Regions from separate parts of the Homo sapiens genome. Here region 2 is linked to region 1. The links come from fine-mapping of genetic effects on gene expression. A gene starts in region 1. The other region holds a variant in brackets. All regions are shown on one strand. Distances are from middle to middle. Region 1 holds the start of PTP4A3 (protein tyrosine phosphatase 4A3). Region 2 overlaps GPR20 (G protein-coupled receptor 20).

What was found.
Region 2: its variant is fine-mapped to the expression of PTP4A3 in whole blood (TOPMed, PIP above 0.99).

What each region holds. Positions count from the first base shown.
Region 1 is chr8:141,390,667-141,393,166 of GRCh38, reverse strand. It overlaps PTP4A3 (protein tyrosine phosphatase 4A3), which reads right to left and starts at 1,146. Exons shown (of 6, transcript NM_032611.3): 1 at 1,083-1,146. It overlaps ASTILCS (antisense transcript of PTP4A3, liver carcinoma survival associated), which reads left to right and starts at 546. Exons shown (of 2, transcript NR_187488.1): 1 at 546-759; 2 at 2,016-2,500. RefSeq lists an enhancer at 1,454-2,074.
Region 2 is chr8:141,361,139-141,364,138 of GRCh38, reverse strand. The region is part of intron 1 of GPR20 (G protein-coupled receptor 20); the gene reads left to right. Among named protein-coding and RNA genes, the nearest start is that of GPR20, 4.6 kb to the left of the region's middle. The variant C/T (reference allele first, on the strand shown) is at 1,747.

The sequences.
Region 1 (2,500 bases):
GGGAGGATTGCAGGAACTCAGTGAAGCACGGCTCTGCACAGGGCTGCCAGGCGGCTTCTGTCTGTGCAAGGCCACAGGCACCCTGTGTTCAGTGACCTCCTCTGGTCTGCAGCCGAGGACACTGCTCCAACCTGGGAGCAGGGCCCCCAGGGTCCACAGACTAGGTGGATGCCCAACACCCACCATCGTGTGCGGGGCACACCCCAGAGCCCGCAGGCAGAGAGAGGGGGTGCAGCACGTGCCTTTCTGTCTTGGCTGAGGGTGCCCGGGCACACACTGTGACCAGCTAGCCTGGACCTCACGCTGCCCTTGGAGCCGCTATCACAGAGGGCCAGGGAAGCCTCCCTCATAAAGGGCTTCCCTCCGGGAACCGGCAGGGTGAAACTGCTCTGCCCACTTGGAGCTAAGCATGCCACCACCCCACCCCTGGGCCACCAGCTGCCCAGGGGCGTGTCAGGAGTCACCCGTTTAATCCCTGAGGCACGTGGATCAAGGCTGCTGACCTGATTCTACCGGGGTGTGCTTGGAGGGCTGAGGCGCCGCCCGAGTCCCAACACTGGTATGGTCTGAGGCGGACTCCACCCGGCCTGAGACCTGACGCTCTGCTTTCCCCTGACCTCCACTGACATCTACGACCCGCCCTGGAGGCACGGAAGGCTGTGGGGTTCCAGCCCCCCAAACTGTGCAGCTGAGGAAAATGAGCCGTGAATGGGGGCAGAGCCAGATCCTGGGCGGGACCCTGCGCAGGATGAACTCAGGGTAGGAGGTCTCCCGCGCACCCAGAAACGGGAGCGGGTCACCCCCTTCCAGCCAGGGGTGTTCTGTGGCTCGCCTGGGGAAACAGCGGCCTCCTGAGGCTCGGCCCCGGCACGTGGCAGCCTCCAGGCCCACGTTCCCGCCGGATCGGCCGCCAGGCGCAGGGTCCCGGGACGCGCGGGCAGGGGGAAGGCGGCGGCCCTCCCGGCTGCGCGGCCCCGAAGCCGTGCCCGGAGCGGGCGGCGGGCTCGCGCGCGGACGGCCCCCCACGCGCCTCCACAAAGCGCCGCGCGCCCCCGCCCCGAGCGGGCGCGGAGGAGACTGACCTGGCGGTCCGGGCGGCGCCGGCACGACGGGTGGAGGGCTCGGGACGCGCGCGCCCTCGCGCACAGGCGCGGCCGCGGCTCCACCGGCTTAGGGCGCGCGCCGGACCCGCTGGGTCACGTGGGGGCACGGCCCAATGGGAGCGCTCCCCACGCCGCGGCCGCGCGCCCGCCGCCCCCGAGGCCGCCCCTGGGCTGGGAGGAGGCGGCTCCGGTCGCGCGGGCGGCCTCGGGGACTGACCTTGGCTCCTGTGCCTGCCGGGCGCCTAGGCCAGGTCGGCCTGGGGCAGGCGGGCGTCGGAGGGGCAGTTTTGAAGCCCGAGCGAAGAGGCAGAGGGCGGGATGCGGACGAAGCCAGGGAGTTCACGAAACTTCTGGAGTTCTCAGTTTCCCCCTAAGTCGACTGGGGCTAGGTCCCGTGCCGCCAGGCGGGCTGGCTGAGGGGATGGGCTGGGGCGACAAGACGGCAGCCGCCTGGCCCGGGTACTTGGGGTCAGACCGGCTTCGAGGCCCCCGGACCGCCGTGTTATCAGGACGGGTAGGGAGCCCACGGGACGCGTGGTGCTCAGAAGAGCGGGGAGGCGTGTGGACGGGGCCTGCCCGAGCTGCACCACCGCCTGCCTCCAGGCTGCGAGGCCCGCCCAGGCGAAGGCGGCATCTCAGCCTCTAGCCCTTGGGGACCTTGAGGACGTCCTCTTATGGGTCAGCCGTTCCTAGGGAGGCTTGTGGCTCCAGTTACTGGAAAAACCAGTGCTGGTTCACGCAGGAGGCCCCAGTACAGGGGGAAACAGAGGCAAGCTGGGGTCTCCCAGGCGGCCTCACCCACCCAGCCCTGTTCCATGCCAGTCCCTGGACCCTTGGCCCAGTCAGATGTTCAACTGCTCCAGCCCTGCCTCCACTTCCCTGAAAGATGCTTTTCCACCCATCCACCCTCAGCAGCCAGAGGGACCCCGGGAAGATGGGAGTGAGAGCTGCCTTCGTCTGCAAAAGTCTCCAGACACCACCTCACTGGTGAAGGCCAGAGACCCTAAACTGTCCCAAGACCACCTGACTGGGCTGCCTCCCTGCCACCTGGCTGCCAGCCTCTCTCAGAGCGCCTGCAAGCTATTCCTCCAACCCAGAGTTTCCTTCCCAGCTAAAGGCCTTTGCACCTGCTGTTCCTTCTGCCTGGAAGTTCACCGCAGACTATCCCAGGGCCTCCATCCTTCCCATTGCATGGTCCCCATCAGCTGCCGCCGCCTCTGAGAGCTCAGTCTCCACTGGCCATCCTGTCTCTCAGCCCACTGCACTCTCCACTCTGCCAGAAAGTCCCCCAATCAGTGACAACACAGGTCACGGTCCACACCTCACCTGGTTTGTCCCCAGTGCCCAGCATCTGGCACCGAGCAGGTGCGTGCAAATCCTGGACAGGTGGGCAAGCT
Region 2 (3,000 bases), 29 kb after region 1:
CCGCACTCTGCTCCACTCCGGCCTGTGCCGGGTCCTGCCAGTGGACCTGGGTCTGATTCCCAGCCCCACCAGCTCCATGCTGGGTAACCGTGAGGACACCACTCACCCCTCTGGGCCTCCGGTTCCTCATCTGTAAAACCTGGGATTGCTGTGTGGATGCAAAGCGCCCTTAGCAGGTGCTCAGAGCCCCTCTGTGGGGAAAAGGCTGGGCCCGTCCTCCACACGTCCACAGACAGCACACAGGGTCCTGAGCCAGACCCCCAGGCAGGCTCAACAGCCACCCTGGGCCATCTGCTGCCCTGGGGCCGGGGCCACTCTGCTGCCTGGTCTCACATGTGGCAGGACAGAGGCAGACAGGCTGCTGGGCAGCCAAGAGAGAACTCCCAGGTTGGTGGGGTGGGTTTGAGAGGAGCCCAGGGAAGAGAGGACATAGCCCTCCCCACCCACCGGCCAAGGACGGAGGCCGGCATGACCCTGGTGCCCCGCTGGAGGCCTCTGGGCAGGTGCCAGCACCCCAAGCCCAGGGGTCTGGCCTTCCATGGCCGGGTGCCCAGCAGAAATTCAACAAGCTGTGGGTGAGGGCAGGGAGGCAGCAGCCCCCATCAGTGCTCTGGGCATGGACTAGTGGTGTGGCCATTGGGATGGATGGAGCAGGAACCCCCAGGGAGGGGACAGGGTCAAATAGCTTCCATGCTCGATGCTCGCTCCCACCCCTTGGAAGTTCCCAGGACCGTGAGTTTCACAAAGGCTCTGAGAAGTCCTGCACTGAGCACACGTGTTGGCCCTGGCCTCTCCCCACGTGTGAGCGGGCTGGTCCACACAGGGCCCCATCCAGGTGCCAAAACCAGGAGCCTCCCGTGCTCTTATATCGCACGCCTCCCATGTTGGGGGTGTCTGCAGTATTTCTCACTTAGTCCAGCCACCCTGCCTGATTTCATTCATTCATTCAACAAATATGGTTCCCAAAGTCCCAGGTGAGGGAACTGAGGCTCCCAGTGATGAAATGATTTGCCCGAGGCCTCGAAGGTGGCGGGTGGTAGAGCTGGCCTGCAAACCAAAGACCATTGCTATCAAGAGTGGTGATGGGGCCGGGCGCAGTAGCTCACGCCTGTAATCCCAGTAGTTTGGGAGGCCAAGGTGGGCAAACCACTTGAGGCCAGGAGTTTGAGACTACCTTGGCCAACATGGTGAAACCCCATCTGTACCAAAAATACAAAAATTACCCAGGTGTGGCACGGGCACCTGTAATCCCAGCTACTCCAGAGGCTGAGGCATGAGACTCACTTGAACCCAGGAAGTGGAGGTTGCAGTGAGCCGACATTTCGCCACAGCACTCCGTCTCAAAAAAAAAAAAGAAAGAAAGAAAGAGTGGTGATGGGAGATAGAGGGTGGGAAGGAATGTAAGTGTGGACACAATGGTCAGAGTGATTAGGACGGGCTTCCGGGAGGAGGTGTCAGCCTTGCTCGGCTGGGAGGACTCATGGGTAGTGACGATGGGGCTGGGGGTGGAAGCCAATTCCAGACCAGTACCAAGACACTGGGTAGGCAGGTTTCAGAGGGGGCCAGGCCAGGTGGCATTCACCCTGAATGCCAGGTTGAGAAACCAGGCCACACCTTGCCAGCCCTGATGAGGCTTGCTCAGGGCGTTCATTCAGACAAGGGGGAAGACGGGTGCTGCTCTCTGCCAGGCCAATCTGGGTGCTGGGCTGGTGGAACAGATGGGAGCTCAGCCCCCACCCACAGCCC[C/T]GCCTCAAGATGCTCAGAGTCCAACAGGGAAGCCTGCAGCACATAGCAGCGCCGTGGGATGAACCCTGGGATTGAGGAAGCGCAGGGTGCCCTGGGAGGATGCACCAGAGAGAGGCAGCCCAGGGAGGAAGAAGGCTTCCTTAAGGAGGCAAGTCCAGGGGGAAGTCCTAAAAATGGGCATGAATAAGCCGAAAGGGAGAGAGCAGGAACAGCTTGGGGTTGGGCCTGGAGGGCGCATGGAGTGTTTAGGCCCCGCTAGTAGTTTCGCCTGCAGAAGCATCAGTCAGGTGCAGTGACTGGAGAGGCACATCCCCAGCCCTGCCCAGCAGTCCAGGCCTCAGGCCCCTCCCAGGGAGAACCCCCAACCCAGCGGCAGCCCCGCCTAGGACGGCTGTTTTGTGATGTGATACCTACGGGGAGGGCATGAGGGACATCCTCCTTCACCCTCTGCCCCCTCCCCTGGAGGAGCTCAGCGAAGCCTTGAAAGGCCGGGGCTCTGGGAGGTGTGCCCACCTGGAGGGGTGGGGGCTCTGGGGGTCTGCCCACCCGGAAGGGTGGGCCAGAAACAGAAAAGAAAGAGATGCCGCAGCACACCTGCCCCTGCCCCGCCACACCTGCAGCAGGTGCTCTGTTCAGCCAAGGCCCAAGACAGCCATGCAGGGCAGCGTGTCCGGCCATTCCCACTTCACAGGAGGAGACACTGAGGCTCAGAGAGGACCCACCCAGGTCAGAGCCCTCCCTCCAGGCTGGCGGGGGCAGTGAGTAGTGTGGGAGCTGGACCTGGTCTAGGCTGCACACCCAGGTTGGAGCAGAGCTCGCCCCCTCGCCCTCTGGGTCCCCCGCTGGCAGCTTGTCCCATACTTTCATCACTTCCTGTGTCTGAGCCCCTACTCTGGGCTGGCACATCAGGACAAGAACCCCCAGGGGAGATTCTATTTTGCCCACTCTACAGATGAGGAAACTGAGGCTCAGAGACTGTAAGGCCACATAGTCCGTTCAGAGATGGAGCCAGGCTTTGGCAGGGCCATCCAGGCCAGAGCCAGGGCTCCATGGCCACACTCCAGGTCCCTACCCTGCTGGGTCTCCACTCACTGACTCTCAGCCCTGGAGAGCAGGCCCTCGTTCCCTCTGTTCTGTCCCCAAGGAAGTACCTGTGTGTGGGTGGGGAGCAGAGCTGGCCTGGGCCAGTGGAAAAGAGAAACCTCCCAGCCCTGGCACAGCCTCCAGGCCCTGAGCCCCAACACCATGTCAGCA